Linked DNA regions of Homo sapiens. The protein of the gene in region 1 purifies or fractionates together with the protein of each later gene. This does not show direct contact. Each region holds a gene or a part of one and is shown on either strand. Other genes may lie near its edges. The genes, in order: SHH, DERL1 and EDEM2.

Evidence for each region.
Region 2: the proteins of SHH (region 1) and DERL1 purify together in Homo sapiens (affinity purification with western blotting, with the first as the bait; one study listed by BioGRID). This does not show direct contact.
Region 3: the proteins of SHH (region 1) and EDEM2 purify together in Homo sapiens (affinity purification with western blotting, with the first as the bait; one study listed by BioGRID). This does not show direct contact.

Annotation. Positions count from the first base shown.
Region 1 is NC_000007.14:155,809,627-155,814,045, forward strand, and holds the start of SHH (sonic hedgehog protein isoform 1 preproprotein), read right to left. Parts: upstream 2,838-4,419; 5' UTR 2,497-2,837; coding exon 2,197-2,496; intron 1-2,196.
Region 2 is NC_000008.11:123,028,690-123,032,336, reverse strand, and holds part of DERL1 (derlin-1), read left to right. Parts: intron 1-1,580; exon of another isoform or gene 1,581-1,620; coding exon 1,621-1,732; exon of another isoform or gene 1,733-2,107; intron 2,108-3,647. UniProt on the Homo sapiens protein: Functional component of endoplasmic reticulum-associated degradation (ERAD) for misfolded lumenal proteins. Forms homotetramers which encircle a large channel traversing the endoplasmic reticulum (ER) membrane.
Region 3 is NC_000020.11:35,119,728-35,123,374, reverse strand, and holds part of EDEM2 (ER degradation-enhancing alpha-mannosidase-like protein 2 isoform 1 precursor), read left to right. Parts: intron 1-3,647. UniProt on the Homo sapiens protein: Involved in the endoplasmic reticulum-associated degradation (ERAD) pathway that targets misfolded glycoproteins for degradation in an N-glycan-dependent manner.

The DNA.
Region 1 (4,419 bases):
CCCCACTTGGGCCGTCCTTCCCCCTCCTTTTGTGTTGGGAACGGGAATAGCCACTGCCCAAGGAAAAAAGTATTTGTTTTCGTTTCGTTCGTCTGAGGGAAGTTGACAGAAGGTCAGAAGTTCAAATGCTGCCTGTGCGCGCGGCGGCGAGAGTGGCCGGGCGCGGGGCCGCTGGGCCCTGCGTCCCCCGGCAGGGCGGACGGGGGTCGGGGGGAGGCCCCCGGGCTGGGGGCTCCGGCTGGGACGCGGAGGCCTAGAGGCCAGGCAGGCGGCGGACTGGGGATGGGGGCGCGTCCCAGGGCAGGCCGGCGGAGCCCGCGATGCGCCCCGGCCCCTGCGCGGGCGCCCCCATCTCCGCGCCCCCGCCGCCGGGGACACTACAGCGAGCCCGGCGCTGCTGTTAGCTCCTGCGGTGCCTGCGCTCCCGCGCGTGGAGCAGCAGAGCCCGGCGGCTCCAGCCCAGCCCCTCGCGCACTGAAACCCTAGCCGCGGGGGATCGATAACCCGGGAGTAAGTGGGGCTGCAGGCGTCTGCCTCGCTGCGCGGCTCTGTGCGCTTGCAGCTTTGCAGCAGGGCTGCAAGGCCCAAGCCCTGGGAAGGTGTGCGAGCCCAGGACCCCTTCTGCGGTATTGGCCTCCCGCAGAGCAGGGCAGAAGCTGACCCACTCTGGCTCTGGGACCTCGGGTATCCACGCCCCCGCCGCTCTCTCCGCAGTGCCTCCCTCCTCTCGGGTTCCGAGGGACCCTGGCAAGGCCCCTCCTCCGCGGGGAGTGAGGGTGACGAGAGGATGGGCGCCTCGGGCTAGCCGGAGAACTCCCTCCAGCCAGCTGCACGCAACGGGCACCCCATGGCCCGTGCAGAGTTAATTGTGGATCGCGCTGCTGTCTGGCACTGGCGCGCGCGTCCACACTCGCGGTCCAGATTTAAGGTGGTCGGGAGCAGATGAGGGAGAGCAAGGAAATCAGGACCATTTCCCATTCCTCTCCCTTCCGACAGCTGGAGCAGGCTACCTTGCCTGCCCCTCGCCTTTCTCGGCCTCAAGCAAGCCTGGGAATCGGGTCGGGAAGCAGGGCGGCACGGAGGTAGCTCCTCTCTCTCTGCCGTCAGTACCCTCCCCCTGCACTTGCGCCCCACCAGCGCCACTCCATCAGCCGCTGTACGCACCTAGCCCTAAAGGTAGGACTTGAATATTTTAATAGGGCAATAAAAAGGATGTTGACCTATATTTGCAAGGAAACCCATTTCTGGCTTCAGTTATACGTGCATGGAGTTTCAGAAAGTCTAGAATTGGCTGGGAGATTGGCAGCTCAGAAATCTCAAAGGAGGTGGGGAGAGAGAGAGGAATTCATATTTTGCTTAGCTTCCCCTCCCCCCACACTAATATTTATTCGCTCTTAATTCTTATGCAAGCAGGTTGAAAACTAAAGTGATGCAATGCCAATAAGTTCTAAGTCCCTCCCCTAAGGTACCTCGGGCTTGGAAGAACGAAAGAGCATCCTTAAAGAAATATCAATACATTCACACTCTGATGGGCACAATTGCGGACACGCAATCGCAAAGCCAGCTCTGCGATACAGCCAGCCACCCAGGGACGGGCGGAGTCTCCCCTGGAGCCCCTGCCTTTTGTCAGAACCGCCTCCTGGCTTTTCCAGTTGAGAATTCTTTGGTGGGGAGGTGCAGGGTGGGGGTAGTGGTGGGAAAGAAAACCACAGAGGCAACGGGAAACGTGGGGGCTCTGAGCTCCAATGCCCAAGGCTACGTTCGTTCGTTCGTACAGTACCAGGAGACCACTTCATGTTTGTGGGAGGGGGATTCCCAGCCTCTCCTTCCATTTCCACTCCTGACTTGGAAAGGGCCGACGCCCCCAAAGTGAAGGTCTCCCCAAGTTACAAGCCAGGGCAGAGGTAGGATGGGGAAGGCCATTGTAGCAAGACTCATCAAATCAGGGCCATAATGAACCACGTCTGTTACCGTCCTCACCCCCACCACACCCTAAACTTCTCCAGCTGGACCCTTGACCTCCATTCTCCTCCAGGAAGAGGAAGAGATGGGGGGCGGGCAGGTGGGTGGGGAAGGAGCGGGTGAAATCACCTTCCTATCTGCCCGAAGAGCAAACAGAGTTAAGTCTGGAAGTGTTCGGCTTCTCGTAACCCCCTGGAAAGCCACACATTCCACGCCCCGGCGCTGGGTTCCTACCTGAGTCATCAGCCTGTCCGCTCCGGTGTTTTCTTCATCCTTAAATATGATGTCGGGGTTGTAATTGGGGGTGAGTTCCTTAAATCGCTCGGAGTTTCTGGAGATCTTCCCTTCATACCTTCCGCTGGCGCCTAGGGTCTTCTCGGCCACATTGGGGATAAACTGCTTGTAGGCTAAAGGGGTCAGCTTTTTGGGGTGCCTCCTCTTCCCGAACCCCCTGCCCGGTCCGCACGCCAGTCCCGAGCATACCAGCAGCGAGGAGACGAGGACTAGCAGCAGACATCTCGCCAGCAGCAGCATCTCGCCCATGGAACTGATGACTTCCGAGCTGTCCCCGTGCGGGTCCGTGCGCGAGTGCGCGCGGCGGGTGTGTGCGTGTGCGCTCTCTCTTGCGCTTTCCCTTCCTCGCTCCGGCTCGCCCGCTCGCTCTCTCCCTCGCTGGCTGCCTCGCTCTTTCTCTTCCTATATAACCTTGCCCGCCGCGGCTGCGGGGGACTCTCCACCGCTCCCCACCCAGACAGGGGCTGGAATGGCAGGCTGCCGGCCGCTGATAACGGAACACATCGGAGTTGGGTCGCGAGACAGCAATCAAAAGACAAAAAGAGTCTGATTTTAAATGGTAGCAAGCCTGGAGAGCTTGTGAGAGAGGCTGCCTTTAGCACTATATTATAGCTGCCAGGGGCGCATCTGATTGGCCAAAGCCGCACAAGCTTGTCTTCTGATGTTAACCCTGAAGAAGACTACGTTTTTTTTTTCTGTTGCTGCTGTTGCTTTATTTTCACCTGAAGGATTCGAGTTAAAAAAAAAAAAATCTTTCCTAAGATAAAGGTGGGCGGGAGGGAGGAGCGCATGTCTTGTGGTAACAGCAGTTACTCCCGGCTTTGTGTACATCCTTGCGTTTCCCCCTGACTTTCCCTGGAATGGTAGGTGCTTCAGTTAAAACCAACTTAAGTTTTTAAAGGACAGTTTAAACCCCCGCAAGCTTCAGTCATCAAGCACAGAGTCGCTCACACATTTGAGGGGCACAGCTGCCCAGCTGTTATTTAATTTTTCTTCCCCAGGGACTTTATAGTGCAGGCTGGCTCTCCCTGCATTTTGAAGAAAGAGGACTGAGCCCCTCCTGAAGACTCAGCCTCTGTGGACCGAGGATAATTATGAGTGACCATAACTTAAAGCACTGGTATTTGAAATGCTTTAAGTGCCTTAGAAAAATGTAAAAATACTGCTCTTTTATTGTGCTTCAATTAATACATTTTTTTTTTTGTAGAGCTCTGCAAATGGGATGGAGGCGTGCTCAAGGGCAGTTACAGAGTGAACTGCGGGCGTCAGGGTGGATGGGCAAAGCAGGTCTGGGGGCTGCACCCCAGCACAGGGGAGAGAGTGGGGGCCAGTGTGTGCGCTGGGTGTGTGGAGGCCATTGCAGGGTGTTGGGGGGGGGGCAGGCGAGTGGGCGAAGCTGTGCTCACACAACCCCCACGATCGATCAGAGCAAAGTGCAGAGCCAGGGGTGAGCTGAATGTGGAATTCAGGCTCCTTGCAAAGCTGGCCTTGTGTGGGGGCTCAGCAGGCCAGCAGTCTTCAGGCACAGGAGCCACCAGTCCTAGGGGCTGCAGCCCAAGGGGTCAGGGGCCCTGGGGGAACAGTGTTCTGGTTAACGAGGGGCTTCCTAGAAAGAGGGCACAGTGCCCAGGAGGTGGCAATCTTTGAGTCTATAATCACCTCACTTTTTGCAGAAAAAGGAAAAAAACTCAAAAGTCCTAAGTAAACCAGGAAAATAAAATTTGAAGCTCCCTCTCAACCCTGCTTTTCTTTTTTTTTTTAAAAAAAAAAAAACAGATCATGCCCTTCCCCTTCTCAATCGCCATCCCACTCATGTGCAATGATTCCTCTAGCATAGGATTAGAGAGTGAGGGTTATTTACGTGGAGGGGAAATCCTGACCCTGAGGAGTCATCAGATGCTGCAAATGTGGCCCTGTGAAGTTAAACACTCTCCCTTGACCCCGGGCCCTTGGAGTGGAGGGGGAGAGGACCCCTGTGAAGCTCAGCCCTCAAACGATGGAAGTTTCCAGAAGTTCCCTTTGCAGATCAACTTTTTGTGTGTGTGGTGGGGGAGAGAAGGAGAGGAGCATCTTAGGACACATCTGTCTTGGGCATGAGAGGCTGAGCGTTAACAAGACTCGGTGGCCTGGGTGCCTTTGGGGAGGTTGACCCGGGCTCCCCTT
Region 2 (3,647 bases), on another chromosome or scaffold:
ATCAGGAGACCCTGTATCTACAAAAAATATAAAAATTAGCCAGGTGTGGTGGTGCATGCTGGTAGTCCCAGCTACTTGGGAGGCTGAGGTGGGAGAATCACCTGAGTCCAGGAGGTGGAGGTTGTAGTGAGCTAGGATCATGCCACTGCACTCCAGCCTGGGCATCAGAGCAAGATCCTATCTCGGGGGGGAAAAAAAAAATGTAAATCCAGAAAAACAAATGAATAAAGGAAATGCTCAGGTTTTTAAAACGTGAAAAGGTGCTTGACTTCTCATAATGCAAATAAAAATTAGTTTTCAGATTGGTGAATATATAATACATGAAATGGTGAGAGTATGGAGAGAAGACAGGATTCATCTACTTTTTAGGAGGAAGTATAAATTGAGCAAACATTTTTGTAGGCATTTGGCAGTATCTACCAAAATAAATGGTTATGTCTGTTGCTCTAGCAGATTTATTGACAGGAACTTATTCTGTATATGCACATATAAAGAGGATATACAAGAATATTCATTGTGGCATTGTAACAGTTTAAACAAAAGTTTAGACATTCACATACAAGGAATACTATGAAGCCAATTAAAATATTTTGTAGGGAATGAACCAAGGTATAAAACAGTGCCGTATAGAGTAGGATAAAGAAGAATGAGTAATAGTAACATGTATTTCTTAGAGGAAATACAAGACACTGATCAGCTGTTGTTGGGGAACTGGGAGACTGGAGGTTGGGAATGAGGCTTACTTGTTACTTTATTATTTAATTTATTTTAATTAAATTAAATTTAATTTTTTGAGACGGAGTTTCGCTCGTCACCCAGGCTGGAGTGTAGTGGCGCGATCTTGGCTTACTGCAACCTCCGCCTCCTGGGTTCAAGCGATTCTCCTGCCTCAGCCTCCCGAGTAGCTGAGATTACAGGCCCCCGCCACCTCACCTGGCTAATTTTTGTAATTTTATTGGAGACAGGGTTTCACCATGTTGGCCTGGCTGGTCTTGAACTTTTGACCTCAGGTGATCTGCCTGCCTCAGCTTCCTAAAGTGCTGGGATTACAGGCATGAGCCACCGAACCTGGCCTGCTTGTTACTTTAGACCCTTCTTATGTTTTGTTTGTTTTTTCAGGGAAATGTTTTTAAAGAAAAAGTGCCCCTATTGCCTATTTAGTGCATTGGTTTGAATAAAAAATTGTTGTTTTACTTCTGCCTTTGAATGTGGCATTTTTGGACAAGGTTTGTCATTCCAGAATATTCTTTCCCTAAATAGAGGCATTACTGTACTGTTGGAAATTAAGCCTTTGTAATTCATTTTTTGATGTAGGCTTAATTGTATGCCTGATCTCAGCAAAGACTAACCATATACTCATATAGTATTGATTTTGTTTCAACTTGTTTAGAAATATTTGTTGCTTATTTTATGATGTCGTTTTATTCCATTGATTTGCAAAGTGATGTGATTGTATTTGGTGTGAACACTTTTCTTCAGTTGTTTTCTTGAGTTGTGTTGGTAGGATCACTTTCACACCTCTCATTGAGGAGGATGCTTTGTTAATTTTGTTTAGTTAGAAGGGAAAGAAATAACCAGGCTTACAGAAACTAACAGCTGTGTTTATTTTGATCTGGACAGATTTGGAGGCCAATCACTGCCACCTTTTATTTCCCTGTGGGTCCAGGAACTGGATTTCTTTATTTGGTCAATTTATATTTCTTATATCAGTATTCTACGCGACTTGAAACAGGTATGTTACCCATAGTTGTTTTAAGCATTGTTTCTTTCTCATTTACTAATCCATGTGTTTACTTTGGAGGAATTTGGAGGGCAGTTAGCATTACAAAAAGAAACTGCATAAAGATAGTAAATGCTTAGTGACTGTGCCAGGACTGCACCAGGCACTTAGCTTACTCAATTTTTAATCCTCACAACATCCTGAGGTATAAGTAGCAGTGTTACCATTTTATAGATGCAAAAAGTAGCAGATCAGAGGTTGACATGGCTTGTCCATCTCCTTAGTGGCTGAGCTGTGTGCCTTTCATTTATTTTGAGGGTCTCACTCATTTCTTTTGCAGCAGTCCTTGTCCTTCAGTGCAGAATTGGGCTGGAGTATATATGTCTCCTAGATTGGGGTTGAAAAACATCAATTTATGTAATTAAAAGCCTAGATTTATTCTCTAATTGAAAAACTCAACTCTAAAATACAGTATATAGCCAAGATTTAATAATATATGGTAGTTTATCAGGTATGAGTACCAATGTAATATTTTATTTTATTTATTTATTTATTTTTTGAGACAATCTTGCTCCGTTGCCCAGGCTGGAGTGCAGTGGTGCCATCTCAGTTCACTGTAGCCTCTGCCTCTCGGGTTCAAGCAATTCTCATGCCTCAGCCTCCTGAGTAGCTGAGATTACAGACACCTGCCACCATACCCGGCTAATTTTTATATTTTTAGTAGAGATGGGGTTTTACCCTGTTGGCCAGGCTGGTCTCAAACTCCTGACCTCAAGTGATCTGTCTGCCTCAGCCTCCCAAAGTGCTGGGATTACAGGTGTGAGTCAACGTGCCCAGCCAACCTATGTAATATTATGGATAAGTTCGAAAAATCTTTTCGTAAAAGTGTCTTACTGAATTGTCATTTATTTCCTACAATACCTTATATGCTGTCTGAGTCACTTATACTAAAGAAACAATACATCAATACACTGTGTTACAATATGGATATAATTTTGTTAAATTTAAATGACTTTGAAAAGGCTGACTGACTTCAGAGACTTTATAAACTTGCTGGCTGTTACCTCAGGATAGAGAACTCTGAACTACCCTTAAGTGTATGTAAGTCAGTGCTCATATGGTTGAGAATTGCGAATCAGTCTCATCACTGCAGGGAAATAGTAGGATGGGTATTTGATGTCAAGTAACATTTTTCCTTAAATTGGCATTTGCTTTTAGGTTCTTTTTAAAAAGAAAGAAATTGTATTAATACAAAGTGTAAGGTCATAGACTATTATATTACTATTGGGAGGAACCTAGTTTATTTCCTGAGTTTTACCAAAAGATGAATAGGAGATTCAAGGAAGTAAAGTAACTTGGCAGAAATGAAACTGACAACTAGGCCTCTCACCACCATATTAGGGGTTTGATCTTTAAATCTACCAGAATATGTGATTTTTATTCTCCTTTGTTCCAGTTGGACCCATAATGATACTGAGTGCTTAGCAGTCTGCCTTTCTGGTATAACTTAATTGAGCATTAATTTGTTAGAGTAATTTTTTTTTTTTTTGAGACAGGGTCTTGCTCTGTCACCCAGACTGGAGTATAGTGGCACAGTCATGGCTCCCTGCAGCCTTGACTGCCGGGGTTCAAGTGATCTTCCCACCTTAGCCTCCCTAGTAGCTACAAGGATGGGTGTTAAACCGCCACACCTGGCTGACTTTTGTATTTTTTGTAGAGATGGGGTTTCACCATGTTGCCCAGCCTGGTCTTGAACTCCTGGGCTCAAGAGATTTGCCCACCTTGACCTCCCAAAGTGCTGGGATTACAGGCGTGAGCCACTGTGCCCAGCTGGAGTAATTATTTTATATTGATAGTAAACGTTATATCAATAGTAAAATAGATTAAGTGTGGATCATTTATGATCAGTTATTTAAAATTTTATTCT
Region 3 (3,647 bases), on another chromosome or scaffold:
GTGATCCGCCCACCTTGGCCTCCCAAAGTGCTGGGATTACAGATGTGAGCCACTGCGACTGGCCCCATATGCTCTTTCAAATCAGGAAATGAGTGAGAAGGAAAAGGCCAAGGTTGACTCCTTTTGAGCTCCTGCCATCAGGATTTCAGAAGTGTAGGCAAGCTTCCTAAGTCCATGGGTCAGATAAATTATGCTTACGTGTATGGAATGTTAGAACTTTGGGGCGGACCTTAGGAATTACCTAGTCTCTTCCACCTCCCCATTTGCAGCTCAGAATCAAGCAAAGGACTATATTTGAGACACTCTCATAGGTTCCTTTCTAGCCCTAATGTCATTTGATTCACTTCAGGGAAGCTGAAAATTGTGAGGAGGGAAAGAAAAAGAGGGACAAAGGAAGGAAGCTTAGTCAGCACACATAGTCATCCCCCACCCCAAAACAGGCTATGAGCCCATTGTCTTAGACACTTCCCACTTTCCCACCTGAATTGCCTTTTAGCCATGGGACAGGCCTTCTGGTTATCCTGCCTTCCTCTACCCCATTTCCTTCCTCTTCTAACTCAAGTGATTATCGTAGGAGGTGTAGAGGGGACCAGGAGAGGGAATAAAGAGCAAATTCATCAACTTTTGACTCCTTAGAGGCCACTGTTATTGATGTTTCTCATGCATTTGTTCTCATGGCATGTTTTTAAAACAGGAAACTTGGTTGGGCATGGTGGCTCACGCCTGTAATCCCAGCACTTTGGGAGGCCAAGGCAGGTGGATCACCTGAAGTCAGGAGTTTGAGACCAGCCTGGCCAACATGGTGAAACCCCATCTCTACTAAAAATACAAAATTAGCTGGGCATGGTGGCGTGCACCTGTAATCTCAGCTACTGGGGAGGCTGAGACAGTAGAATCGCTTGAACCCGGGAGGTAGAAGTTGCAGTGAGCTGAGATCACGCCATTGCACTCCAGCCTGGGCAAAAAAGAGCAAAACTCCATCTCAAAAAAATAAATAAGTAAATTTTAAAAATAAGAAGCTCTGAGAAGGTATCGTATCTGGTGTTACCAACAGGTAAAGATTAGGGTTTGGAACTAAATGTAAGACATAGGCTTGCACAATCTTAGGGTTAGAGGGAACCTGAGAGGTGTTCTAATTGGAATTTTCCTAATATGGCCCTGTCAAGTGGTTATCTAGTTTTTGCTTAGTTACCACGAGTGACAAGGAGCTTGCTACTTAACAGAGGCAACCTGTTCCATTTGGGACAGGCTGGCAGGAAGGCATTCATGGAAAGTAAGACACTACTGGCCAGATGCAGTGGCTTATGCCTGTAATCCCAGCACTCTGGAAGCCTGAGGCAGGAGGATCATTTAAGCCCAGGGGTTCAAGATCAGCCTGGGCAACATAGCAAGACCTTGTCTCTATAAGAAATATAAATAAATTAGCCAAGAGTGGTGTTGCATGCCTGTAGTCCCATCCCAGCTACCTGGGAGGATCACTTGAGCCCAGGTGGTCGTAGCTGCAGTGAGCCATGATGGCGCCACTGCAATCCAGCCTGGGCAATGGAGTGAGACCCTGTCTCCAAAAAAAAAAAACATAAGGCACCGCTGTCAGGAATCCAGGAGTGCGTTAATCCAGTCATCCCTCCTACCCCAAAACAATGGCAAATAGGAGATAAGGACTACTCTTTCACTAAATTGGCCAGAGCCCTGTACTTTCGTATATGTCTCTCTGATCAGCAGTGTTGGAGCACAGAGCCTAGCCTAAAGGCCTCTGCAGGCTTTTACCTTCCTCTAAGTCCAAATCTGAACTTTGGGCTGTCTCCTTCCTCTAGAGCAGGGATTCCCCAACCCCCAGGCCGTGGACCGGTACAAGTCCATGGCCTGTTAGAAACCAGGCCACACAGCAGGAGGTGAGCTGCGTGTGAGCAAGCAAAGCTTCATCTATATTTATAGCTGCTCCTCATCGCTCACATTGCTGCCTGAGCTCCGCCTCTTGTCTTATCCGTGGTGGCATTAGACGTTCATAGGAGCACAAACCCTATTGTGAACTGCATATGTGAGGGATCTAGGTTGTGTGCTCCTTAGGAGAAGCTGATGCCTGATGATCTGTCACTGTCATCCATCAACCCCAGATAGGGCTGTCTAGTTGCAGGAAAACAAACTCAGGGCTCCCACTGACTCTACATTATGGTGGATTGTATAATTATTTCATTATATATTACAATGTAATAATAATATAAATAAAGTGCACAATAAATGTAATGCACATGAATTATCCCAAAACCATCTCCTACAAGCCCAGTTCATGGAAAAATTGTCTTCCATGAAACTGGTCCCTGGTGCCAAAACGGTTGGGGACCACTGCTCGACAGAGTTGGTCAGATGCACAGGAAAGTAAAGCAATAACTAACATGCTTAGGAGGCCCACATGTGAGGAGAGAAGCGTGATGGCTGGTCATGAGGGCACTGGCCCACCAGCTGCTAGAAGCAGAAGAGGGCTGGGTGTGGTGGCTCACGCCTGTAATCCCAGCACTTTGGGAGGCCAAGGCGGTGGATCAACTGAGGTCAGGAGTTCGAGACCAGCCTGACCAATATGGCGAAACCCTGTCTCTACTAAAAATACAAAAATTAGCCGGGCACGGTGGCATGTGCCTGTAGTCCCAGCTACTCAGGAGGCTGAGACAGGAGAATTGCTTGAACCTGGGAGGCAGAGGTTGCAGTGAGCCAAGATCATGCCATTGCACTCTAGCCTGGGTAACACAGCAAAACTCCCTCTCAAAAAAAAAAAAAAAAAAAAAAGAAGAAGCCGAAAAAAGAAGCAGAAGAGGAGGCCTCCCATGAGGGCACTGTCTTTTCTGCCTTTGAACACACAGAATGTGTTCATCTAGTAATGAATGTACCCTAGTCTGTGCCTTAGAATATGAGCAATTAGATTAGCAATTGTCTAGAGGCCTGTGAGGAGAGGGGAGGAGGAAGTAAGAGAGAACTGGGGAGATAGGCAGAGACCTTTTCTCTAAAATAAGAACTAGAGGCTGGGTGCAGTGACTCACGCCTGTTATCTCAACACTTCAGGAAGCCAAGACTGGCGGATGACTTGAGGTCAGGAGTTTGAGACCAGCCTGGCCAACATGGCGAAACCCTGTCTCCACTAAAAATACAAAAATTAGTCAGGGCTGGTGGCGCATGCCTGTAATTCCAGCTACTTGGGAGGTTGAGGCATGAGAATCCCTTGAACCCAGGAGGCAGAGTTGCAGTGAGCGGAGATCGCACCATGGCACTCCAGCCTGGGTGACAGAGTGAGACTCTGTCACAAAAAAGTAATTAACGGAATAAAATAAGAACCAGAGTTTGCAGCAATAAGCCAAAAGGGACAGAAGCACTGATCAAGCCCAGGAGGAAACAGGACAGGAGAAGGTCAGGGGGAGATGATGGTATAGAAAGGAGACAGGGGTTCTTCTGTCTCTTAGAAAAGATGGATGAAGTAGAAAAACATACTGAGCTGAGGCCACCCTTGAAGTCAACTCTACAACAGTTCTTCAGGTATTTGAAAGCAATAAACACATTTTTTTTGGATTTCCTTATCTCTAGAATAAATATTCTCATCTGGACCCACTCCTGTTGGCTAATATTCATCTTAAGGTAGAGCTCATGTCTTAACATCAAGT